Homo sapiens: one gene and its partners. The protein of the gene in region 1 purifies or fractionates together with the protein of each later gene. This does not show direct contact. Each region holds a gene or a part of one and is shown in the gene's direction. Other genes may lie near its edges. The genes, in order: AGAP1, MELK, RASAL2, KIF13B, TESK2, TANC1 and NAV1.

Region 1 (3,500 bases):
TAGCAATCATATGTTCTTACAGCATCGTTTATGATAGAGAAAAATTGGAAGCAACTTAAATGTCCATCAAAGAGAACTTGATAAGTAGGTCTTCACTAAGTGGAATGCTATGCAGCCATTTAAAATGATGATGTCAGAGAGTATGTGACAGCAGTGAGCAATGAACAAGTTTCGTTAGGCTGGAAAGGGCAGGTTTCTATGCAGCAATATGTATTACGCTGGCTTTTTAAAGTACATATGTGTATGTAGATGTGCTTAAACAACAGGCTAAAAGAACAGACATCAAAATGTTAATAATGCTTAACTATGGATGGCCGTATGATTGTTTATTAATTTTATGTTCTTTTTCCCCTCTCTGTATTTTCTAAACTTGCTTCAATGAGCATGTATGTTTTTAAATCCTTTTTAAAGAAGACCATAGAGCCAGGTGTGGTGGCTCACACCTGTAATCTCAACACTATAGGAGGCTAAGGCAGGAGGATCACTTGAGCCCACGAGTTCAAGGCTGCAGTGAGCTATGATCACACCACTGCACCCCAGCCTCAGCCACAGAGCGAGACACTGGCTCAAAAAATAATAATAATAAATAAATAAATAAAAATAAAGCAAGCCATCAAGTGTAAGGTTAAGAATCAGCACTCCCAGCTATACTCGTGTTTCTCCCTGCCCCCACCCTGGCGAGTGGCTTTGTCACTGTGGCAACCGAGGGTCTTCAGATGACATGTGCATCTCCCAGGGTGACGTGTGGTATGAATGGGGTTTTCTGACAAGGAACCATGAGATATGTCTTACATTGCTGATGAAGCCCTAACCCTGGGCTTATAAACGGATTATTTCTTTCTCATTCTTCTTACCAAGTAGACATGTGGCTACTGCCCAGAAGGTTACCCATTTACCTTCTCCAGGTTACCATGGTCCATGCGTATTCACAGATGATCCAGAACTCTCCTCTTTGCTCATTTCTGGCAGAGTCCGTCTCAGCTGATGAGTTAAAATGTGACATTTCCTCCCTCCCCCCGCCCCATGCATGATGATTTCTTCTTCAGTTATGCTCTTTCCCAAAGACATCAAAACAAGAGTGATTGTTTAGAAATTACCCTCGTCCTACATTTGCTCCCAATCTGTTTGATCTTTCCCTGATGTTATCAGTGATGTGCGTTTCTCCCGGGGTGCTTACGCCTTGTATTTGTGTCTTCCTCCGTGCCCAGTCCCGGCTGACGAGCCAGAGCGAGGCCATGGCCCTGCAGTCGATCCGGAACATGCGCGGGAACTCCCACTGTGTGGACTGCGAGACCCAGAGTAAGTGTGTGCGGTGGTAGCAGGGGCTGGCGCTGTGTAGCTGGAGACCACATGGTCCCACTAGGCCCGGGTTGCAGGGGACTCACATCTGTCCTGTTTGGCAGATAAGAGTTAACTGCTTTTAGGAAATTGAGATATTTTGTTTGGATTTTACCTTAACAGAGTGCCTTCCACACAAGCCTCACCCCTGGCTGCAGGGTGCGTTTCTGTGAGTCTTTCCTTGCCTTAGGCATCCGATGAGCAGCAGTCATACCTGAGGTGCAAAGGATTCAACCCCACACCCACAGCCTGTGCCAAATCTAGGAAGCCCAGGAATTCAAGACGAGCCTGGGCAACACAGGGAGAACCCGTCTCTACAGAAAATTAAAAATTAACTAGGCGTGGCAGCTGGCTTACTTTTTGCTTAATCAGTGATCACTTGTTGATTTTTTTTTTTTTTCATAAAAATAGAATATAATTGGTTCATTCCTGCCTAGAGATTCTTGGGTATTGTTTTTTTAAATTCACAATCATATGTTCTGGGTTTTGCCATCAAATGATGTCTTGTTTTTTTTTGGTCTTAAATCCATTACCCACTAAAGCCTCTGATTGAACTGATAGAAGTTGTAATTACTGCTTTGTGCCATCGAGTACCCCAGTTTTATTTCATGATTTCCGTTGTCTAATCCATACTATTACTTTCCCTTTGAAAAAGTCATTTTGTTGTTCATAATCTTGAGAGTAGGGACTTATTTTCATGGTTGCAGTCCCAGCCCAGAGACAGTATTGGAGACATTCAGTAAATTTCTTCCCTTCAGATTTTTTTTGTTAAGTAGTGTTTTGAAGAGAAGGAAGTTCAGTTCAAACAAGGTAAGAGGTGCTGGTACCAGGCTGGGTGCTGCCCAGGAGTCAAACGTGCATGGCGTGGTGGGTCCTGCCATCCTGAAGCCTGAAATGCACTGGACAAGGCACCAACCTGCTGACCATGGAGCTAAGCGCTGGGGAGAGCCATCGGGGGCATGCGGCGGTCTTGCCACCCATGCAGGAGCTGTCGTGTCAGCAGGGCTCTGGAGATGGGCAGGGTTTGTACAGGGAAGGGGCCGAAGGAATCACTGTGAGCAAAGGGAGTGGCTTGAGGAGAGCTTCTCTGGGTGGTTGTAGGATTAGAGATGCTTTTTGGGCTGGAAAACCAGTAGAAGCTAGTTGGAGTGTGAGTGCCAAGTGAAACTTTTTCCAGCTTTGTTCTTCATTTGTAAGCAGAGAGACATCATTGGAGTTTTAGAGCAGGAAGGAGATGGACCCTGAGCTCCACTTGGGGAGATGGATCTGGCCAGACCATTTTGAACATACTGGAATAGAGGCAAAGCAGGGAGGAGGCCAGCCAGGGTCGGCTTGGCCGGGAAGGGAGACAGGAGCCCAGGACTGCTCCAGACAAAAGGGAAAGGAAGCGCCCCCTCCAAGAGTCCACTCAGCAGCATAGCAGGCAGGGGAGAGATCAAAAGTCTGTCTGCGGCCTCTCTGGAAGCCTGTCCTGCGGGTGAGGGAAGGGGTTCTTCTCCAGGTATCTTGAGGTTCTTCTTTAAAGTACCTCCTTATGTTTGAATGTTTAAGTTTTACTTTCAAATGTGTGGTGAAATGAAGTTCGAAGAGAGAAGCAGTTATTTGAAGTGTGTTTCTATCAAAAAGTTTTAAAAGTAAGAGCTTTTTTAAAAGCACGAATCTGAGAAATATTAGAACATCCATTAAGGAAAATGCCTGCAGTTGTTTCCACCGTGCGTCTGAAGGTCGCTTTAAAAGGAAAGCCATCCGTGGCTTGCGGGGACCATGATACCTGGCAAATCGGAGGTCGCAGGTCCTGTCTGAGATGAGCTTGTGCATGTGAGTGCGGATGGGGGGTGGGAAAGGGAGGCCAGTGCAGGGGAGGTGTGGGCCAGTTTGTTCTGAGCAAGACCACCTGAGCAGATGGACAGGGACAAAGGGAAAAGGCAGAGTTTGACAATTCAGGAGAAAGAGGCGATACCAAGCACGCATTTGCTAAATGTGTGGTCTGTGTCAGCCCGGTGCCAAACCCTCCCATGCGCTGTCTTTTCATTCTGCAACCCTAGTAGTTGGTGCCCCTGTGGGCCCCACTTAAAGGGGAGGAATTGAGGAGCCTGAAGGGTCAAGTCATTTGTCTGAGGTCACAGAAATAGCAAGTCCCAAAGCAGGATTCAAACCCATCT
Region 2 (4,288 bases), on another chromosome or scaffold:
GGGAACAAATACATATTTAAAAATATTTATCCATGTGCCACCCAGAATTACCTTGTCTATCTTGTATCACACTATGAGAAGCACTACCTTAAGAAATTTGTATCTCTTCTTTGGGCCATAGGTTCTTATTTTGAAAAGTAAGATAGTTGGATACTTTTCTTCCTAGGCATTTTGTTATTTATACAATGAACTCAAACCTGAAAGATATAGAAACTATGGTTTTGTTTGACAGTGAAGGTACTTACCAGGAAGGGAGGGATTTTTGTGTGTCCAGGACCCACTAAAACAGTGCCTACCACATAGTAAACATTCAAAAGTAGTTGTTGAATGAATGAAGGATAAATATCAATTAGGAATGAAATTATCTCTGAGAATTAGGCTCTCAGTCAATGAGAAAAAATAATATGACATCACTTTTTTAAAGGAATACCTGTTACATTTATTTCCTCATAGAACTGTCATAAAATCAGCTCCTGGAACTCTATAATATTCTTTAAATAATCCAGAAAGAGTTAAGGAAACATATCCAACTAGGTACAAAGCAAACTTTGTATGGTGTTTGTTTATCTTTCCGTGGTATACATTTCAGGACTGTTAATGTCTCTTAAAATAGTGTGGGAAGGGGAAAATAGGCAAAGCTCAAACAGTTAGATGGGTGCTCTTTAATATTTATTTCTTTAAAAGGATTGGTAGGAGAGGAAGATGAAAGTATGAAAAGGAAGCTATGGGTGTGTTTACTAATAACCATAACTTCTCCAAGCTCTCCCAGTGGGCCATTAACTCACTAAGAGTTGACTGTAAATTCCTTTGATATTTTTTAGGAAATAGTTCCATTTGAAACAGTACTATATTGAGGAGTTTTGGAACTCTTGATCTGGTGTGATGGTCTTTGTGTTGATGTAAAAATTTACTTCTCATCTCTTCTTTTTCTTTTCTTAGCTTCACTATAACGTGACTACAACTAGATTAGTGAATCCAGATCAACTGTTGAATGAAATAATGTCTATTCTTCCAAAGAAGCATGTTGACTTTGTACAAAAGGGGTAAGAAGCACATTTACAAGCTGTTGCATTTATTAGTATCTTTTGGACTTTGAGAAAATAGGAGTTGGTTGGGCGCGGTGGCTCACGCCTGTAATCCCAGCACTTTGGGAGGCTGAGGTGGGCAGATCACTTGAGGCCAAGAGTTCAAGTTCAGCCTGGCCAACATGGAGAAGCCCTGTCTCTACTGAAAATACAAACAATTAGCTGGGCATGGTGGCACATGCCTGTAGTTCCAGCTACGTGGGAGGCTGAGGCATGAGAATCACTTGAACCTGGGTGGAGGCTGCAATGAGCTGAGATCACACCACTGCACTCCAGCATAGGTAACAGAGCGAGACTCTGTCTCAAAAAAAAGAGAAAATAGAAGTTGATCTCCTCACCCCTGTGCTTTAGAAAAAATGTATTTCTCCCACCTCATTCCCAAAAGCTTTTGAGGTAGTGTTATTGCTTATAATTTATTCTCTTTTGTTTGGTTCAAGCTATAAAAGTTTTAGAAGCACAGATATTGTCCCACTTTATTTCAAAATAGGAAAATTCAAAATTCTTCTGGCTTTCTTGTAGATCCTCTATTTTCCTTTGATTGTCTGCTTTACAATAATATTTATAAATTATAATCTAAATTTGTGAGACATTTCAAATGAATCAGGGATTTATACAGAATCCTTCTCTTCATGACTGGCTGTTTTACAGGGCTGGGTTTTCAGTGCTTTAGGAAGTTTTTTCACCTTACCTCTCTCCCGCTGTTGAAGGAACTGCCATCAAAGCCTCCTTGGTTATGATCTCCTGGTCTCAATAGCCAGGCCTCTTCTGGTCACCCAAGATGGCCGTATTTCTAAGCATTTCCATTCAATTATTTCCCTTTAAAATTTCTTTATTAAAGCAACCAGAAGAGACATGCATGGATTTAAACATGTAAATAGAATAGTCAATATAGAGTAAGATTTGAAGAAACAATCTTGTGCAGATATAATTTTTAGTTTTTAGTTATCTGTAAATGTTGGCAAGCATTCCTTCTGTGAACCCTGGCATTCCTCTCAGGCTTCATTAGAACACATCTCTCCCACTCTGATCTCTTCTTCATGCTTGGGGCTATGAGCCTCTGGGCATACCTCTGTCACAGGTCTCTCAATGATCTATTATCTAACATGTGACTAAATTGTTCTATGCCTCATCTTCTTGTCAAGAATCTTAACTTCAGGGTGCTCCTTTTGGCATTTTTGATGTTGACTGCTTATTTTTGAGAGATCAAGCCTCTTTCCCAAAACACATGACTAAGTTAGTAAGAAAAAGAATATTTTGGTACATAACAGTATGAAACAGAAAAAAGTACATAACTGAAACAATGTAACTTCTCCACACATCTGTGGAACAGCACTTAATCAGGAACCCTTAAGTATTTAGGGAATTGAAACTTAAAATCAGTCCTATTTATTGAAGATTGGTAAGACAAACAAAACTCTAAAATAGAATGTAAACTAATTAAATATTATTACATGAATTAAATTTATACAGCTTTGCAGGATCATACGTATGTCTTAAGATGTGTTTCAGGCTTCATTTTGACTGGGCCTTTCCATTCTCAGAGTAGATAATGCGGCAGTTCTATCTATAAATGCCGTACGTTTCAGTTATGGGAATATACCATTTCCTTGGGCTTTTTCTTCTGCTTTTCTTTCTGCCATAAAGTGATGTGATGATCGTCATAAGAGGTTATCTCTCATTACTAATTAGAAAAACCTCAAAAACACACGTGCCTTTCTGACAGGTTACTGGCTTCAGCTTTATTTATATGAAAGACAAGTTTCTGACAAGGCTCACACACATGAAATATTATCTTTCTTGCGCTTTCCTTTGTTGTGAATGTTGTGGAAATGCCCAATGTTTGCGGATTACACGTTGAAAGGATTGCATAAAGAATGCCAGATTTCTTGAGCATGAATGGCATGTATAGCTATGAAACAGGGGCTTTTCTTTGGAGCAAGGGAGACTTGTAATAAAGCCTTTTCATGCTTATTCTTAGGATCCTAGTTCAGTTTCTGGGAAAACACCAGTCATACTCTATTACTAAAGCATAGCTAGGTCATTTGGAAACTGTAAACAGTAATACATTGCTTAATATGAAATAATGGTTCATTTCCTCCACTGGCCTCCTAGAGGCTTAGAAAACTCTTATACAGAATATGGTTCTCCTACTAACTAGCTTCTTATCTTGTTTTTCACAGTTATACACTGAAGTGTCAAACACAGTCAGATTTTGGGAAAGTGACAATGCAATTTGAATTAGAAGTGTGCCAGCTTCAAAAACCCGATGTGGTGGGTATCAGGAGGCAGCGGCTTAAGGGCGATGCCTGGGTTTACAAAAGATTAGTGGAAGACATCCTATCTAGCTGCAAGGTATAATTGATGGATTCTTCCATCCTGCCGGATGAGTGTGGGTGTGATACAGCCTACATAAAGACTGTTATGATCGCTTTGATTTTAAAGTTCATTGGAACTACCAACTTGTTTCTAAAGAGCTATCTTAAGACCAATATCTCTTTGTTTTTAAACAAAAGATATTATTTTGTGTATGAATCTAAATCAAGCCCATCTGTCATTATGTTACTGTCTTTTTTAATCATGTGGTTTTGTATATTAATAATTGTTGACTTTCTTAGATTCACTTCCATATGTGAATGTAAGCTCTTAACTATGTCTCTTTGTAATGTGTAATTTCTTTCTGAAATAAAACCATTTGTGAATATAGCAGGCTTCTCTTTTTTGTATTTGATTTTGATCCAAATAAAACCTCAAATGGCTTCCTGACTATTAAGTAGAGACTATTTGGAGTATGTTTTATCTGTTATCAAATATGCCTTGGGCAGAAAAACAGATAAGAATTCATTTGCATAATTTTTTCCTGTCTGATTTAAGTAGGATTTATTGAGATCGTTAACTGTCACAGCTGTGGTTACCAGAGTTAAACAACACATTTAATATGTTGAATAAAAGAGTATTGACTTTAAGTATGTTTGGTCAACAAATGATAAGTATCCGAACTATGAACCCCCCCTGAAATGTTACTTTATGGTAATTTCCCTAAGTCTCAATGTTGGCCCCAAATTTGTATTTTTATTTCATTTTATTGGTCTCCAAAGGCTAGAACTCAAGTTATATTGGTATGGATTTCACCAATTAAACTAGTTGGAGAAAAAATAGCACTCCTTCTGGTCAGTAGTGAAGGGAATGTTTTGTCATTCATTTAT
Region 3 (3,500 bases), on another chromosome or scaffold:
TTTGTAGAAGCTAGCAGTATTGAAGGTTTGTACTGGTGAGCTTTTGGTAGGTAAGTGAGGGCTATATTGCAGAGAAATTTAAATCCCAGAACTAAAAAAAAAAAAAAAAAAAGGAGTTTTGGCTTTACCCTTTAGAGAGAATAGAAAGCTATTCTCAAAGCATTAGAATATTAAAGTGATATTAAGAAAGTATGTTATAACATTTATCACTTATAGATAATAAACAAAATTAGTCATTCCCTCCACAAAATAAAAAAAAGTAATAGTTCTGTGTAATGTCAAATCAAAATGATCATATCTCTCTTGAATATGTTCTTTCTCATTTTCTCATCCTCTACTTCAGGTTTGGTAACAAAGAGGAATACATGGCATTCATGAATGATTTTTTAGAACATGAATGGGGTGGAATGAAGCGCTTTCTTTTGGAGATCTCTAATCCAGACACCATCTCAAACACCCCAGGCTTTGATGGTTACATTGATCTGGGCCGAGAGCTTTCAGTTTTGCATTCCTTACTGTGGGAAGTAGTTTCCCAACTTGATAAGGTAAAGTAGGTTGGTGGAAGATAGAGAACTTTAATGTACCTGAATTCTGGAAAGTAACTATAGAGTGATAGCACTCACTCTTTCTGCTAATTGAAAGCAACTGTTTACCCTAGAAATCTGAGAGTAAATGGTCATCATTTCTGAGTAAAATATGAGATCGACAACCATGAAACTCTAGAAAACCATGACATTATTAATATATGTTTTTAATAATTATCTGAATTAATGGAGTATATTTCTCTAAATTTATATATACAGAGTGCATATCTGAAAACTTGACTAGAAACTAATATATTGGTATATACAGCCTTATGCATGTCTAATAGGATAAGATGAAACCTCATATAGTAATTTCTAATAAAAGTATAGATTTAGCTAAGAAAATACTAGGTTTATCATGTTTTAAGTAACTACCCATGAAACAAATTTTTTTACTATACAAGTCATAGAGTTTCATATAATTATTAGTGCTAACAGTCATTGTTTTCTTTCTTTACAGATGTGAATTAAGAATACAGAAAGCAATTATTTTTAATCGTTTGCTAAGAATTTTATTATATACCGTATTAATAAGTAAATATACACCATGCCAATCATTTTCTTCCTTCTGGAATTTAACAAAAAGGAATAGATTTGGTAGTAAAAAATAGTCTAAAAGACGTTGGCTAGGCTTATTACAATAATTATTTATTGATGTTTTTGTTTGCTACAGGCACTTTATAAATATGTGTGGTGGTATGTTAGAATAACTTCAAAAGACAGTCATTTTTCTATGATAATGATCTACTTATTTTCCTCTATTTTCCTATCAATAAAAATGCTATATCAGTAAAATTTGAAGGGGAATAAAACCTATTAACAAAGACCACTTTGCTGAGGAAACATATGTGGTAATGTGTCCTCCAGTGCTTAAAATATTTGTAAAACAATAAACTGTTCCTTATTCTCGAGGACCTTTTCTTCACTTTTAGAAATGCTAGCTAGATTTTTAAGTTGCAGCTATGCCAAAGATAAACCCTTTTCATGTGAATCGTAGCCCAACATTATTGAGCAAGTAAAGGCCTTGGTGGCATCTATCCCTGTTTGAGTAGGGTAGAAGAGTCTGTTGATTGTTGAGAAGGCAAAGACCCAAAGGCAGCTATGCCAAACTGACTGACAGTTGAAGGGGACCCCTAAGACCCCATGAGAATAAGAATTCCCTAAATAAAAAAATGATTGAAATGGATAAAGCAAGTATTAAAGAGTTCGTCTTTGTTGAATAACTGCATCTCAGTGGAATGCAGATTCAGTTTTCCTGTGAAATGGGCCTGGTTTATTCAGGATCAAAGTCTTTTTAACGGGCTTTGCTATGTAAACACACTTTCTCCTTTTTAATCTGTGTTTGGTCCTGGGAACCAGGAATACATCTAGACATATCTCATAGAGGAAGTTTACCTGATTTTGCTGTTAAATTAACAATAAAAATTGTCTTACTGATGGAAACTCAGTTGGCAGTGGGTCAGGGTTCCCAAGATTGACTGGGATAGTGGATGGCAGTATCATCTGTGTGCCCTGCAGTACTCTGGATTCCTGAATGAGCACCTTCTTATATGTTGGCATGCATTTCTTTTCTCACATGATCCCTTTTCTTTGAAAGTTTATCATACTAGTTGATCCTCTGATCTTGAAGTTCTTTTGGTTAGAAGGAATTTGGTTCTGCCTCCACCCTCCCCCACCTTGATCTACTAGCCTCCCAAAGATTTAGTTTGCTTCGCATGCCTATTTTAGTTGGAATGGCATTAGTTTGGTAGTTTTGAGCATGTCTTTTAATTTTTACTTGCATAATCCTGATTTCGATTTCCTTTCTTTCCTCGATGTCTGCCGCACCTTGTTTCGCCTCCTCCATTCATCTCGACGCCATGGTTCTGCTGCTCCATAACAATGCATTATGAACCTGCCACTCCCATATGCAAACACTTACCCTTCCCTCCAACCTACACCCCTCCATCAATGGCCATCGTTGTGCCAAAAACAATCTGTGGTGGATGTCGCAATGCTTATTATCCAATTAGGGTGAAAATTCCTTCCTACAGGCGACCGTGGCAAAATTGGGGCCTCTCCCTCGTGTTCTTGCTGATATTACCAAGTCATTGACTAATCCTACGCCAATACAACAGCAACTGAGACGCTTCACTGAACATAACTCCAGTCCAAATGTCAGTGGAAGCCTCTCCTCTGGGCTGCAGAAAATATTTGAAGACCCCACTGACAGGTATGAAAGAGAGAATTTGACCACTATCTCGGAGAAACATAATGTTTAGATTTAGCAGAAGTATATTCAACCTATTTGTTGAATTTACAAGTTTAAAATCATGAGCAACTGAAGACTCATCTGACCTGAGAGCAGTCCAATTATTTGTCATAATAATGCACAAGATCTGGGATGACTTATTTTCTAGAATGGTAGTATAGAGAGTTACAATATATTCCACAAGCATATTTTTAAAATTTCTGTCTTGCTTAGTGGAAGACTAAAGGCTTTATGAAATTCATGTTTCTGTACGTTATAGCATTCAAAATCTTGGAGAACCTCGGTTAAAACCATTTTATAGCTGGCTATGTCAACTGGACAGGTAGATACAATGTCGATGCTTAGACTGTTTTAGGGATTGGCAAGACTTGTGCCTTTTGCAGGGACCTTTCAGTTGTGTGCTTAGAACTTCTTCTCTTGAAGGTTTAGACAAGTAAGTATGAATTGGAATATTTGGGGAAGGTTTAAAACCTAACTAGGAAATTATTGGAATCCTGGTTAAAACTGAAGACAGTGATGGGTTGGTATCTACAGTGTTATTCTGTACCTTTGGGGAAAAAGTAAAAATGCTGGATTTTATTCTAAGCATTGTAATAATTCCCTAATTAGATAAAATCTGAGTTTCCAAAGAAATGTACGTATCCACATAAGAACCTTCGGAGGAG
Region 4 (3,500 bases), on another chromosome or scaffold:
ATATTTGTCTAGTCATACATTTATTTTAACATTCCACTAACAAAAGGAAAAAGAAAAAGAAAAAAGTTCACATACTTTCTTCATCCTAACAGCTTTTCATTTCCATGCCAGTTTGTGCTCACACGTGTATGTAATTTTACATAATTTTAATATTACAACCTTTATTTTGCCTTTCTTCATCTGAGATGCAAAGCTAAACAACTAGAGAAAAGGGTAAATTTTTGTCACAAGATCTTCAAGTTCTATTTGCAGATATCGTTTGTTTTCCAGTGTTGTTGTTCAGACTGTACAGCTAAACAGATAATTCTTGTGTGCTTCCATGTGCCGCACAGAACACCCATTCATACATTATTAACCCGTCTAATCATTACAGGAGCTGAAAGTTCTGTAGCCGTAATTGGTGGGATTAGTTAGATCAGCAACATTCTCCTTTCCAGGAATTTGATGTTTTCTAACTTTAGGTGGCTTAAAAAACATTTAATAGGTAAGCAAACATTGATTGAGTGCCTGCCAGGTATCTGGCTTATATTAGATAGGATGAGATCTTAATGCTTTTCCTCAAGGGATTTCCTGTGTGTAAATCTGTATAAGATCAACTACCAAAATAAGTAAATATCTATAAAAGGTGTTTGGAATACCTTTGTTACCTACCTAGCCTAAGGGGGTAGAACCGGGAAACGAAAGAAATGAAGATAGAAACAGTGAAATAGATTATTTCAGGTGTTAGGGAGAATGGACAAGAAATTTATTTCAGGAGATATTTCAAATGAGTTTACTTGGCATTTTCCAATACTTGATGTGGTGAAAGACACAGAAGTATGTAATAATGTCTAATAGAGTCAATGTAGAGTCAGTGCCTTGGTAATCATGATCTAGTATCTCAATGGAGGGACTATTATACAGCGATTAAAATGATGACAGTCAAAACCATTTAACAAGGAAGATCGTTTTCTCTGTTAGTGGAAAAAGAATGTAAAGCTGTACGTGTAACTGATCAAATCTATTATTATTACTATGTAAAAATGTATACAGGAATGGGCAAGAGCTAGAAAGAAACATGAAAAAGTGAAATTGATTGTTCTTGTTAGGGGGATTTTACTTCCTAAAAGTTTTCTTAGGGTTGCCTGTTACCATCATATTCAGTTTCTTAAAGCATGCTTTATGGTTCATGCCTGTGAGGAAATGACTGTCATGGGCTTGAAAAGAAAATGCCTGTGAAAAGATTAGATTAAAAGGTAAACAGCTGTAGCAGGCTGCTAGTTACTAAGTGCCAGGTGAATGACAGGGAAATAAGGGAATCGAGAGGAGTTTAGACTTCACTGAGGAGGGTGAACTTTGGTTGGACTTCCAGGGAGGAAGCTTATGATGTGAGCACGGGAGAGGGGATGGCATGTATTCTTTGAGGAGGAAGTATGGCCTGAGAGTGAGGACACAGAGACTAGAATGAGTAAAGCAGGTTTAGGCAGCAGAGATGAGATCTGCCTGCCAGAATGGAGATTCTGTGAGGATAGCTAGAGAATGATGGGACAGGAAAGGTCAGGTGGATTGCAGGAAGCCCTGAAAGCAGCCAGGCCAGAAGTCCGGACCTAGGGTGGCTGGTCCACGCACTCTGTTTTGCTTCTTGGGACCTTGTATGGGGCTTGGACACAAACACAACGGGGAAAGATTGCTAGATCCCAAAGCAAGATTGGAAGCTTCAGTAGATGACCGATTTCTGGCATAGCTGGGCAGGATTTAAAAGCGCTTGCTGAAAATGAAGCCTTGTGAATGGGAAGCATAAGGAAGTCGGTCAAAATTAAGCAGCTGTGAATCAACAGGCAAAGGAAAAACCCAGCAAGTGCGAGGAAGCTTAGAAGATGCTGGTAGTCAGTGAAGATAGAGGTGACCCTTAGGAAATGAAGGGACAGGAGAAGGTGGCTTTGACCCCTGGGGTCATTGGTGATTCTTCAGTATTCTCAGAGAGATCACTGACAGATGTGGAGCCAAGGAGGACCGTGGATGGAAATTTCTGGCAGTATTTGCTAAAACAGAAGATACTTGTTTTGTCAGCATCTGCTTGACATGCTAATGGTGAATGAGACACACATGTATTACAACATTGTTTTGTTTCTACTGTCAACTCAGTGACTGAAATTTGGATATATGCACATAGGGCCAGAGGCATTTTGAGAAGAAGGTATACTTTTAAATTCTTTTCCCCAAATCTCCTGTTTTTTGTTTGTTGGTTGGTTTCTTTGTTTTTATTTATTTATTTTTTTTGAGACAGGGTCTCCCTCTGTTGCCCAGGCTGGAGTGCAGTGGCATGATCATCACTCACTGCATCCTCAACCTCAACCTCCTGGGCTCTAGCGATATTCCTGCTGCAGCCTGCTGTGGAGTTGGTACATAGGTGTGCACAACCATGTCTGTCTAATTTCAATATTTTTTGTAGAGATAGGGTCTCACTTTGTTGCTCTGGCTGGCCAGACCTCTTTTCAAGAAATATACATTTATAATATAAAATACAATGTTGTTTAATTGGCATTAGCTTTTACCCTCTCACCTCCATAAAACAATAACTGTCCGACTTTTCCACTTCTTAAGTGCTGAAAATGGAAGAAACCACTGACAAAACTATTAATTAAGGAGATGGATTGAAGTGCTGATTGAGTGGAAATGGATGTATTGATCTCTATGCTTGCTCCTCAAGTTCCCCTTGTGTTTGGCAGAGCATGTTCTTTAAAAAAAAAAACAAAAACTCGACCAAGATGAGCAGTGTGCCCTGTGACCTGGGAAGTGCGTGAAACTAACTGGTCCACTCCATGCAAGTCCATGACTTAACTGTATGGGGCTTTCGCTCTGAGGAGATAAAGATATCTTTAGAAAATGGTATCCATTAGTCATTCATTTCAACAGTGTTGACTGAAGAAAAAGAAAATAGCTGCTTTTTGACAACTTTCTATTTGCGAGCAATGGAGTTCAATGCTTTTTAATGCATTATTTTATTCTTCAAACCAGACTTTGAAAAGGAATTGTAGGCCAGGTGTGGTGGCTCACCCCTGTACTCCCAGCACTTTGGGAGGCCGAGGTGGGTGGATCACTTGAGGCCAGGAGTTTGAGACCAGACTGGCCAACATGGTGAAACCCTGTCTCTACTAAAAATACAGAAACTAGCTGGGTGTGGTGGTGAGTGCCTGTAATCCCAGCTACTCAGGAGGCTGAGGTGGGATAATCGCTTCAACCTGGAAGGCGGAGGTTGCAGTGAGCTGAAATCGCACCACTGCACTCTAGCCTGGGCGACAGAGCGAGACTGTCTCAAAACAAACAAACAAACAAACAAAAAAAGTAGTAATTGTAGCATTTCTATGTAGCAGAACCTCAGAGAGGTTAATTAACATTCCCAGAATTACAAAACCCACCTGTGCTTTTACTACAATGTTGGACATGATTATCTTTAAGAGGATCTTGCTATCCTGAGATGACACCATTTTCAAAGATGTGCAGGATAAACTGGAAGCATA
Region 5 (3,500 bases), on another chromosome or scaffold:
CGTTGTCTGACATGAAAAAAAAAAGGAAAAAAAGTACCAGTGTACCTACCTTATAGGGTTATTGTGCAGATTAAATGAGATAATATATGCAAAACTCTCAGAACAGTGCCTGAAACAATTTAGATACTATATAAATAACAGCTGCTATTATTATTTATAAATACATATACTTACTCACTTTTTTTTGAGACTGGGTCTCTCTCTGTTGCCTAGGCTGGAATCTAGTGGCACAATCATGGCTCACTACAGCCTTGACCTCCTGAGGTTCAAGTGATCATCCCAACCTCAACCTGTGAGTAGCTGTGACTATAGGCACACACCACCACACCCAGCTAATTTTTTTTTTTTTTTGAGATGGAGTCTCGCTCTGTTGCCCAGGCTGGAGTGCAGTGGTACAGTCTCGGCTCACTGCAAGCTCCGCCTCCTGGGTTCATGCCATTCTCCTGCCTCAACTTCCCGAGTAGCTGGGACTACAGGCGCCTGCAACCACGCCCGGCTAATTTTTTGTATTTTTAGTAGAGACGGGGATTCAGCATGTTAGCTAGGACGGTCTCGATCTCCTGACCTCGTGATCTGCCCACCTTGGCCTCCCAAAGTGCTGGGATTACAGGTGTGAGCCATTGTGCCCAGGCTTTTTTTTTTTTTTTTTTTTTTTTTAGACGGAGTTTCACTCCGTCACTTGCCCAGGCTGGAGTACAATGGTGCAATCTCGGCTTACTGCAACCTCCATCTCCCGTGTTCAAGCGATTCTCCTGCCTCATCCTCTCGAGTACTGGGATTACACGCATGCGCCACCATGCCTGGCTAATTTTGTATTTTTAGTAGAGACAGGGTTTCTCCATGTTGGTCAGGCTGGTCTCGAACTCCCGACCTCAGGTAATCCACCTGCCTTGGCCTCCCAAAGTGCTGGGATTACAGGTGTTAGCTACTATGATCCCACCCCTGGGAGCTACCGTGCCTGGCCAATTTTTGTATTTTTTGTAGGGACGGGATTTTGCCACTTTCCCCAGGCTGGTCTCAAACTCCTGACCTCAAGTGATCCTCCCACCTTGGCCTCCTACCGTGCCCAGCCTTATTCACTTTTTTTTCTTTTTTTTTTTTTTTACTAAAAAAGCAAAGCTGCCCTTCATGGGTATTTAGGAATGATGAACAGCAAGACTATCTTCAAATAGTTTCTCCATAACCTTATCTGCTACTCTTTCCTCTGTTCACTTCAGTCTTACTCGTCTTAACCACTTTACTGAAACTGCTCTGTCCAAGGTTGCCAATGATTTCCTGGTTGCAAATTCAGTGGATACCTTTCAAGCTCGTCTTCCTCATTCATGGCTTTTGATACTGTCAGTCATTTCCTTTGTAGAATGCTTTCCTTCTGACATGTAGAATGTCATTGTCCTTCTGAACATACATACATACATACATACATTTATTTATTTATTTATTTATTTATTTATTTATTTATTTATTTATGAGATGGAGTTTAGCTCTTGTTGCCCAGGCTGGAGTGCAATGGCACGATCTCAGCTCACTACTACCTCTGCCTCCCGGGTTCAAGTGATTCTCCTGCCTTAGCCTCTTGAGTAGCTGGGATTACAGACGCCTGCTACCATGCTCAGCTAATTTTTTTGTATTTTTAACAGAGACAGAGTTTCACCATCTTGGCCAGGCTGGTCTTGAACTCCTGATGTCAGGTGATCCACCCGCCTCGGCCTCCCAAAGTGCTAGGATTACAGGCATGAGCCATTGCGCCCGGCCGTCCTTCTGAACATTTAGAATGTTCTCCTATTGACATTCTTGCCTGTTCCTTGGGATTCTGTTGATTTCCCATCTTACATGTTAAACCCTGGGCATGCATGACCTTGGAATGCATGACTGCTTCAGCTCAATGTTTTTGCCTCCTAAATATTGTCTTTCACTTAGACTTTGTTCTTAAGCTTCAAACTGACTCTATTTAGATCATTTCCACCTTGGTTGTCCAATAAGCACCTGTACCTTTAATAATTTAACTTCTCCCAGCTGAACTCACTATCTTTTTTTTTTTTTTTTTTAAGACAGGGTCTCGCTCTGTCTATCACCCAGGCTGGAGTGCATTGGCATGATCTTAGCTCACTGCAGCCTCAACCTCCCAGGCTCAGGCGATCTTCCCATGTAGCTAGGACTACATGTGTGCACCATCACGTCCAGCTAATTCTGTTTATTTTTGTAGAGACTAAGTCTCTCACTATGCTGTTCAGGCCGGTCTGAACTCCTGAGCTCAAGCGATCCTCTACCTCTCAAAGTTCTAGGATTACAGGCATGAGTCACCACACCTGGCCTGAACTCACTCTCTTTTAACATTGCCTCTTCTTCTAAAAACCTACTCCTCTCCTTGCTCTCTGGGTATTTAAAAATGACATCCAGGGACCAATAGCCTATTGCTCTCATTCTCTAATCCAGGCAATTATCAAGTTTTTTTTTTTTAATTCTGCCATCTAAATACATTTTGAATCTTGCCTTGTTCCAATGCCTCCACTATTGCCATGATTCAGATGCCCTGCTCTCACCAGGATTATTGCAGTAATCTCCTATTTCCCTTTCTCTGTATTTTTCACTCTAATCCATCTATCATACCATGGCTAAAATAATATTTTCTTTAAAAAGCAAATATAACCATGTGGCTCTCCTGCTTAAAATGCTTCTTTTGTTTCCTATAGACAGGATAAAGTTCACATATCTTAGCAAAACATGTCAGCCTCACTTCCTGACTCATCTATAAATGCACTCTGGCCATATCGAAGTAAATTAAGTTCCTGAATGCATCATGCACTTAACCTGTAACTTTGCATATGCTGCTCCCTCTGTGTCTTTCGTGCTACTTTCCTGCTACTCCAGGTCATCCTTTCTGACTCCTTATTTCCTCTCTGCATTTCCTCTGACATGCCTCCACAGTTTAGCTTTATCCTTGTTGCTGCATGGTGTTGTCCTACCTGCACATAACTATATTTTAATATTTATTATATGATATTGTTTGACTATGTCCCTTAATAGATTGTGATCTCCTTAAAGGAAAGTGTCATTGTGTGCAGCACCTACCATAGTGCTTGGAGGCAGAATAAGCCCTCAGTAACTTAAAAAAAAAATACAGTCTCTCTCTTCCAGGTGTTTACTCTCTAATGGTTTCACCACTAGCCTAAATATTTCTGATAAATGGTAGCTGGGTTTTCCTTCTGTTTTGCAGTATATCAACTCCGGGAACCTGGAACAGTTGCTAGACAGTAACCTGCATTTGCCTTGGACTGTGAGGGTAAAACTGGCCTATGACATAGCAGTGGGCCTCAGCTACCTTCACTTCAAAGGCATTTTTCATCGGGACCTCACATCTAAGGTATGAAGGCTTTACTCTCACAACTCATTGAGAGATACCACCCTTCTCTTTTGCCAAGAAAGCTGTGTTAGATTTAACATTTAATCACAGAGGACATAATTCATTATATTTTATAGTTAGTCCTTAGAAAGCCTACATC
Region 6 (3,500 bases), about 77 Mb from region 1:
TGCTGTAAGCCAGGGTAGGTTTTAGGTTTTATGAATGCTGTTTGTTTATATTAAATACAAAAATAAAAAAATAACTTGTGCTGATTTTTATGCTAATCAAGATGGCTTTGTGGATGCAGTTAAAGGTCTGCAAACCACATAAGTGAAGGAAGGAATAAATGGAACAATTATGCTAACAAATGACCCAGTCTTGGGGAATAGATGCTATGTATCTTGTTACCAGCGAATGGGCAGAGTTGTGTTCCTGTTTGAGATTGCAGAAGGAGCTGTGTGAAGAGGGTGAGGTGATGCTGACGGTTCTGCTTCCCCCTAGGTGGTGGCCTACCACTACTGCCAGGCTGACAACACGTACACTTGCCTGGTGCCCGAGTTTGTGCACAGCATCGCAGCTTTGCTCTGCCGGTCCCATCAGCTGGCCGCCTACAGAGACCTTCTGATAAAGGAGCCCCAACTACAGAGCATGCTGAGCCTCCGATCCTGTGTGCAGGACCCGGTGGCAGCTTTCAAGAGGGGAGTGCTGGAGCCACTCACAAACCTGAGAAATGGTACTTCGCAGCAGCTACCCACAGCCCCATCTCAGTAGTGGTACAGCAGACACAGGTGGTCCCCAGAAGGCAGGTGGTCAGCCGGGCTGGGGTAGAAGTGAGGTGGAGCATGGAGAGGATGTCGAAGCCTCCGTGCCCATCCACTCCTCTTTCTCAGAACCAGCCCCATGAGGTCGCTCCTACACCACCCCTATGGTATAGTGTTAAAAGAAGCACCCTGATAAGAATGAATGTGATGACTGAGCAGTTCCAAAGTAGTCAGCTTGTAAGTGTGGGCTGTTTAGGTGACTTGCACCACAGAAGACTGTTGCGTATTTTGCACTCCTAAGTATCTGAGGGAATAAGTGGATTATTTGGAGGAATTTTCCAGCATATATATTTGTCAGGGCCTCTGCTCAGTTGAATTGAAACCTTAAAGTGACTTCTAAAGGTTTCCATTTTAATTGTTTGTCCCCGACAAGGTAATGGACATCAGTGACCTGATGGGCCCTTCAGTTTCCCATCCTCTCTGCCCTGGACTCCTCACCTTTTGAGCTTGTTTACTTGCCCACATGGCACCTCTGCTGGAAGGTGCTAGAGGGATAGAAAACAGATATGTCATCATTTCTTCTCTATTGCCTGGGCAGAAAATCAGCACTAATAAATAGAAAACCAGATTCAGGCTCGCAGAGAAGAGCCCTGTTGGAGGAGTCGGTAGCGTGGAGCTCTCACGCTGTGTTGGTTGTATGGCTTGGCCAGGGCAGTTTGCCCTGGGCTGGGGGCAGCGAGGGGGTCAGTTTCCCTTCCCTGGAATCCACTGGGGAGCTCTCATGGGGGGACCTAGTGACCTTTCCGGATTGGGCCTCTGTATGTGTTCATTATCTTTGTGTAGCCCACCCCAATGACAGTGGTTTATGAAGAGCTAACTGTGTTATATACACGAGTGAGATTCTGCTAACATGTGTCATGCAATATGTTTGTTTTGTGAGAATTGGTTTTCTTTTGGCTCTGTGCTCCAGTTTTCATTATAAATTTAATAGAAAATATGCTTCTGTGAAAACTGTTTCTTGTGCCATATGTAAACCTTTTTAGTTTCTAACACTAAACTGGGCACTAAAATACACTGGGTGTTGCTGTCTTAGAGAAATGTATAATTTCTTAATTTGAAAAAATTATTTTATCCTGTAGAGCAGAAAATTCCTGAAGAAGAATACATTATTTTGATAGATGGCTTAAATGAAGCTGAGTTTCATAAACCTGATTATGGAGATACGCTTTCTTCATTTATTACCAAAATTATTTCTAAATTTCCTGCCTGGTTGAAGTTGATTGTGACTGTAAGAGCAAATTTTCAGGTAACAAAGAATTCTCAAATCTTTCTCCAAGTCCCCATTCCAATTTTACAGTGATAAATGTTAATAACGTAAAACTGTTGTAAACCATTCAGCTGCTTGAATTGGAAACTATGTTAAGAATTTGAAAAACTAGTCCAGAGAGCCAGACTTGGGTGAAACTCTGACCTTTTTAGCCCCAGGTATATTTATCAAGATGTCAGGTAAGTTTCCTGTTGGCATCGAATTGCACGTTCACTTTTCAAATGGTGGCATCTAGCCCTGGTTACCGTCATGGAGTGTGTGGGGCCAAGAGGCCTGCCAGAGTTTAAAGCTACTCCTGCTGGTAGTTATTTGCAAGGGTTTACTGTGGGGCTTTGTGTTTTTTTGAAGGGAAAAATGAAGGTGAAAGATTTTTTTTTTTTTTTTTTTTGAGATAGAGTCTCGCTCTGTCACCCAGGATGGAGTGCAGTGGCATGATCTCGGCTCAATGCAGCCTCCGCCTCCCTGGTTCCAGTGATTCTCCTGCCTTGGCCTCCGGAGTAGCTGGGATTACAGGCATCTGCCACCATGCCCAGCTAATTTTTGTATTTTTAGTAGAGACGGATTTTCACCATGTTGGCCAGGCTGGTCTCCAACTCCTGACCTCAGGTGATCCACCCACCTTGGCCTCCCAAAGTGCTGGGATTACAGGCATGAGCCACTGTGCCTGGCTGAAGGTGAAACATTTTTAAGGCCTATTCCCAGAGGTCTATTTTTTCACAAAACTTAAGCATGAGGTAACATTTGCAGCGAGGGGTAGGGTGATTTTTTTTTTCTCCTCCATCTTCTTCCTCACTTAAACCCTGAAATTGTGTCTTAACCATTGACTCCTTCTATACCTATCCTTTTTCAGTGAAGACTTTTAGACATTAGGTTTTGATTTTTGCCCTTTTATGATATTTATTTAAAAACAGCATTTGGAATTTTTTCATTATAAAAACTGAAATTAGACCTCAGTTGAACTTGATGCGTGTTTTTTGGACATTCAGTTTGTATATTTTTCAGTCATTTTTTACATAGTAAGCACAATTTGTCCATCAGTAGATCATAGGAACCAGGAATCTTACGTTCTTCTTCCCAGCTGTGTAAGTTTTCAGAGCTTCAGATAGCATCCATGTAAAATGGGAATAATTGTATTCTGCCCTCTTTATCTACATTGTTATATTAAATGAGCACGTGCATTTAAATACTTCAGAAACAATAGTGGGAAGTCTTTTTAAAAAGGCAAAACTCTTCTTTGCTTTTAGGTGTCAGATGTGCTTAATCTTTGGAATGGGGAAGAGATGGGAAGGGCACATGAGGCTTCTGGGAGCTGAGGATGTTTTGTTTCTGGGTGCTGGTTACATAGGTATATTTGACTTAGTGAAAATTAGTGACACTGTGCAATTGTCATTTGTACACAAATCATATGTTCATTGTTAGACTTCAATTTAAAAGTTTACTTTAAAAAAGCAATTCATAAAATAACGTGCTATACCAAAGTAGGCAGCTTTGTTAAGATGCGCTGTCGTTGAGACACAGCCCAGGGGCAGACTCAGATTTCCTGATTGGGTTACACAGCCCCAGTGTTTGCTGCATAAAGAAGGATGTCTTTTATCTTGGC
Region 7 (3,500 bases), on another chromosome or scaffold:
ATTGATCCAAAAATTACCTTGCCTTTATAAAATACCTTTCTGTTAAGAAGATACAACGTTTTCTCTTGCCAGATAAAGGCAGAGTCTCTTCCTTTTGTAAAAGAACATCACCAAATTACAAGGAAGTTTAAGTCACACTTTGAGTTGCTGACAAACCTAGGACAAACCCCCAGGTTTTCTCCTTTTGGCTAGCCTATATACTGGTGCAGAGCCATTCTTGCATCAATGTGAAACATTTATTTTTTGCCTGGGCTTCTGTTTTAACGATTGACCTTCATCTCTCCTGTCCTGTAGCTGGGATGAAAGCAGCTCCATCAGTAGTGGACTCAGCGATGCCTCAGACAATCTCAGTTCAGAAGAATTCAATGCCAGCTCCTCACTCAACTCCCTCCCAAGTACTCCCACTGCTTCTCGCAGGAACTCAACAATAGTGGTACGTGAGTTTGCAAACACCCAAGCTGCCATCTCAAGATGAACCACAGGGCAAATGGCATTATCTGTGTATGGGGTTGCACGTACACACCCACTCCATGGGATTGGTTCTCATAGGCCTTTGGCCAGGTCATTTTAGAGTTGCCCCCACCCCCTCCCAAAAAAAGCTAAGGCTACTCACCCAAGACATTAGATGTTGTCATATTGTGTATACTTAGTGCCTACACCAATCTAGAGTGATACATGTAAGAGCTATTCCAACTGGAGAAAAAGAAACCCCGAGATATATGTCATCTGCTGTTGGAAACCCTAGGGGTATAGGTAGAAACCCTCAGTTTGACTTAATACTCTGAGATGAGCAGCGCCAGGTACTAACTAAAATCAATCCTGTCAGCTATCCAGTCTCCCATCTGCATAGAAGTATCTCACTCTGCCTTTTTCTCTTTTCTTTAGCTACGCACAGACTCAGAGAAGCGCTCACTGGCAGAAAGTGGGCTGAGCTGGTTTAGTGAATCAGAGGAGAAAGCCCCTAAAAAACTGGAGTACGACAGTGGTAGCCTGAAGATGGAACCTGGGACTTCTAAGTGGCGGAGGGAGCGGCCTGAGAGCTGTGATGATTCATCCAAGGGTGGAGAACTGAAAAAGCCCATCAGCCTGGGCCACCCTGGTTCCCTGAAGAAGGGCAAGACCCCACCTGTGGCTGTAACTTCCCCCATCACTCACACAGCCCAGAGTGCCCTCAAAGTCGCAGGTGAGCCTGGAATAAAGGAAGGTACAAGGGCAAAGACCTAGTTCTTTGGTTGCTCCTCTTCTTAGTGGTCATTAACCCATAGGATGATAGCAAACATTTGCATAGTGCTTTAACAGACATTATCTTATCTGGTCTAAGGACAGTCCCGTGAGTTAGGAAAGATGGGTGTTATTATTTCCATTTTACAAATGTGGAGGAAATAGAAACTCAAAGAGATTAAGTGGCTGGGCCAAAATCCCAGTTAATATGAGGTACAGGAGGAAGTATATTATGTTTAGAGACTAGTTTGGCCTCCTTCCAAACACTTCCAATGCTTGCTTTCTTCTTTCTCCCAAGTTAGTCACTCAAGGCACTTATTTTCATAGGATACAGCTTGACATCTCAGGAAGATCCTAAGAAAACAATAAATAAAATGGCTACAGCAAGAGAATTATAGTGCCCCCAAAGTTGGCCCCTTGGGTAACTTTTAGCCTTAATCAACATTTTCCTGTAGTCTCTAATTACTAAGAGATATTGTCATACTCTATTCCATTTGCTTCCCCACCTTTTTTTTCCCTTCCACAACTAGTTGTTAGATGGATATTCTTGATCATCTTTGTGTTTGCCTCTGCCTTTTTAATCAAAATGGACCATTCTACTCTGGGAGCAAAACAAAAAAAATTCCTAGCCTCCCCACCCCTCCCAGCCAGAGTCTTTCAGACAAGAAACTTTATCAGCTTATCTTGTACCTGTTTACCCAAATTTAGGCCTCTAAAAGTCTACAATACATGGACAATGTTCCCTTCTCCCATGGAGGGAAAGAAAAGGGTGGGTTTTTAAGATACTGGTCAGTTTCAGCTCTTTTCTCATTTCCCGTCCTCTTGCAGGCAAACCTGAGGGCAAAGCTACAGACAAGGGTAAGCTTGCAGTGAAGAATACTGGGCTCCAACGCTCCTCCTCTGATGCTGGTCGGGACCGCCTGAGTGATGCTAAGAAGCCCCCCTCGGGCATTGCTCGCCCCTCCACTTCGGGATCCTTTGGCTACAAGAAGCCTCCTCCTGCCACAGGCACAGCCACTGTCATGCAAACTGGTGGTTCAGCCACTCTCAGCAAGATCCAGAAGTCCTCAGGCATCCCTGTCAAGCCAGTAAATGGGCGCAAGACTAGCTTAGATGTTTCCAACAGTGCAGAGCCAGGATTCCTGGCTCCTGGAGCCCGTTCTAACATCCAGTACCGCAGCCTGCCCCGGCCAGCCAAGTCAAGTTCTATGAGCGTGACCGGCGGGCGGGGTGGACCTCGCCCTGTGAGCAGCAGCATTGACCCCAGTCTCCTCAGCACCAAGCAGGGAGGCCTTACGCCTTCCAGACTGAAGGAGCCTACCAAGGTAGCCAGTGGGCGGACCACTCCAGCCCCTGTCAATCAGACAGATCGGGAAAAGGAGAAGGCCAAAGCCAAGGCAGTGGCCTTGGACTCAGACAACATCTCCTTGAAGAGTATTGGCTCCCCAGAAAGTACTCCCAAGAACCAAGCAAGCCACCCCACAGCCACCAAGCTGGCAGAGCTGCCACCAACCCCTCTCAGGTACCCAATGTGGGCAGCCGCCTCCTTGTCTGTTTGCTTTGTCATTCTTTCGCATATCTCTGCCCTCCTTGGACTAGATGAGGCATGGCCTATCCACCGTTGTCTCTAGGCCTTTGCATGGCTCTTTCCCACCTCTCCCCCATATGCCAAGGTTCTGAAAGAATCTAGTTTCTGACAGTTCTGAAAGACTGAATCCCTCTTTCAAAACTTACCTCATTTGTACTATTCTCTGATCAATGCTTACCCTGTCTTCAGCACTTGTATGGGTGTTTTTACTGTTTATTTACACATATATACCTATTTGCATAAATTCACTTGTATCTCCCATGTGCATATGCTGGCCCCTTATCTAAGCTGAATGTGCCCCAAGTTGGGTATCAGATTTCCTTGCATTGTATTTCACAACAGCATTAGGATAAGCCTCTGTGCTTAGCAAATAGGCAGAAAACAAGACTGGATAGGATTTCTTTAAGGTCCTATCTGCCTCTCACTCTGTAATTCTATTATTCTAAATATTTCGTTTGATCTTCTCTCAGGGCCACAGCGAAGAGCTTTGTCAAACCACCCTCACTAGCCAATCTTGACAAGGTCAACTCCAACAGTCTGGATCTACCATCATCCAGTGATACCACCCATGCTTCAAAGGTCCCAGATCTGCATGCTACAAGCTCAGCATCTGGGGGCCCTCTCCCTTCCTGCTTCACCCCCAGTCCGGCACCCATCCTCAATATTAACTCAGCCAGCTTCTCCCAGGGCC

What was found.
Region 2: the proteins of AGAP1 (region 1) and MELK purify together in Homo sapiens (affinity purification with mass spectrometry, with the first as the bait; one large-scale study listed by BioGRID). This does not show direct contact.
Region 3: the proteins of AGAP1 (region 1) and RASAL2 purify together in Homo sapiens (affinity purification with mass spectrometry, with the first as the bait; one large-scale study listed by BioGRID). This does not show direct contact.
Region 4: the proteins of AGAP1 (region 1) and KIF13B purify together in Homo sapiens (affinity purification with mass spectrometry, with the first as the bait; one large-scale study listed by BioGRID). This does not show direct contact.
Region 5: the proteins of AGAP1 (region 1) and TESK2 purify together in Homo sapiens (affinity purification with mass spectrometry, with the first as the bait; one large-scale study listed by BioGRID). This does not show direct contact.
Region 6: the proteins of AGAP1 (region 1) and TANC1 purify together in Homo sapiens (affinity purification with mass spectrometry; one large-scale study listed by BioGRID and IntAct). This does not show direct contact.
Region 7: the proteins of AGAP1 (region 1) and NAV1 purify together in Homo sapiens (affinity purification with mass spectrometry, with the first as the bait; one large-scale study listed by BioGRID). This does not show direct contact.

The regions. Positions count from the first base shown.
Region 1 is NC_000002.12:236,039,543-236,043,042, forward strand, and holds part of AGAP1 (arf-GAP with GTPase, ANK repeat and PH domain-containing protein 1), read left to right. Parts: intron 1-1,208; coding exon 1,209-1,299; intron 1,300-3,500. UniProt on the Homo sapiens protein: GTPase-activating protein for ARF1 and, to a lesser extent, ARF5. Directly and specifically regulates the adapter protein 3 (AP-3)-dependent trafficking of proteins in the endosomal-lysosomal system.
Region 2 is NC_000009.12:36,673,895-36,678,182, forward strand, and holds the end of MELK (maternal embryonic leucine zipper kinase), read left to right. Parts: intron 1-939; coding exon 940-1,043; intron 1,044-3,265; coding exon 3,266-3,443; 3' UTR 3,444-3,788; downstream 3,789-4,288. UniProt on the Homo sapiens protein: Serine/threonine-protein kinase involved in various processes such as cell cycle regulation, self-renewal of stem cells, apoptosis and splicing regulation. Has a broad substrate specificity; phosphorylates BCL2L14, CDC25B, MAP3K5/ASK1 and ZNF622.
Region 3 is NC_000001.11:178,454,104-178,457,603, forward strand, and holds part of RASAL2 (ras GTPase-activating protein nGAP), read left to right. Parts: intron 1-343; coding exon 344-545; intron 546-2,596; coding exon of another isoform or gene 2,597-2,617; coding exon 2,618-2,796; intron 2,797-3,500. UniProt on the Homo sapiens protein: Inhibitory regulator of the Ras-cyclic AMP pathway.
Region 4 is NC_000008.11:29,256,571-29,260,070, reverse strand, and holds part of KIF13B (kinesin-like protein KIF13B), read left to right. Parts: intron 1-3,500. UniProt on the Homo sapiens protein: Involved in reorganization of the cortical cytoskeleton. Regulates axon formation by promoting the formation of extra axons. May be functionally important for the intracellular trafficking of MAGUKs and associated protein complexes.
Region 5 is NC_000001.11:45,355,164-45,358,663, reverse strand, and holds part of TESK2 (dual specificity testis-specific protein kinase 2), read left to right. Parts: exon of another isoform or gene 1-12; intron 13-3,214; coding exon 3,215-3,361; intron 3,362-3,500. UniProt on the Homo sapiens protein: Dual specificity protein kinase activity catalyzing autophosphorylation and phosphorylation of exogenous substrates on both serine/threonine and tyrosine residues. Phosphorylates cofilin at 'Ser-3'. May play an important role in spermatogenesis.
Region 6 is NC_000002.12:159,174,640-159,178,139, forward strand, and holds part of TANC1 (protein TANC1), read left to right. Parts: intron 1-313; coding exon 314-545; intron 546-1,712; coding exon 1,713-1,879; intron 1,880-3,500. UniProt on the Homo sapiens protein: May be a scaffold component in the postsynaptic density.
Region 7 is NC_000001.11:201,780,127-201,783,626, forward strand, and holds part of NAV1 (neuron navigator 1), read left to right. Parts: intron 1-294; coding exon 295-433; intron 434-885; coding exon 886-1,183; intron 1,184-2,049; coding exon 2,050-2,743; intron 2,744-3,279; coding exon 3,280-3,500. UniProt on the Homo sapiens protein: May be involved in neuronal migration.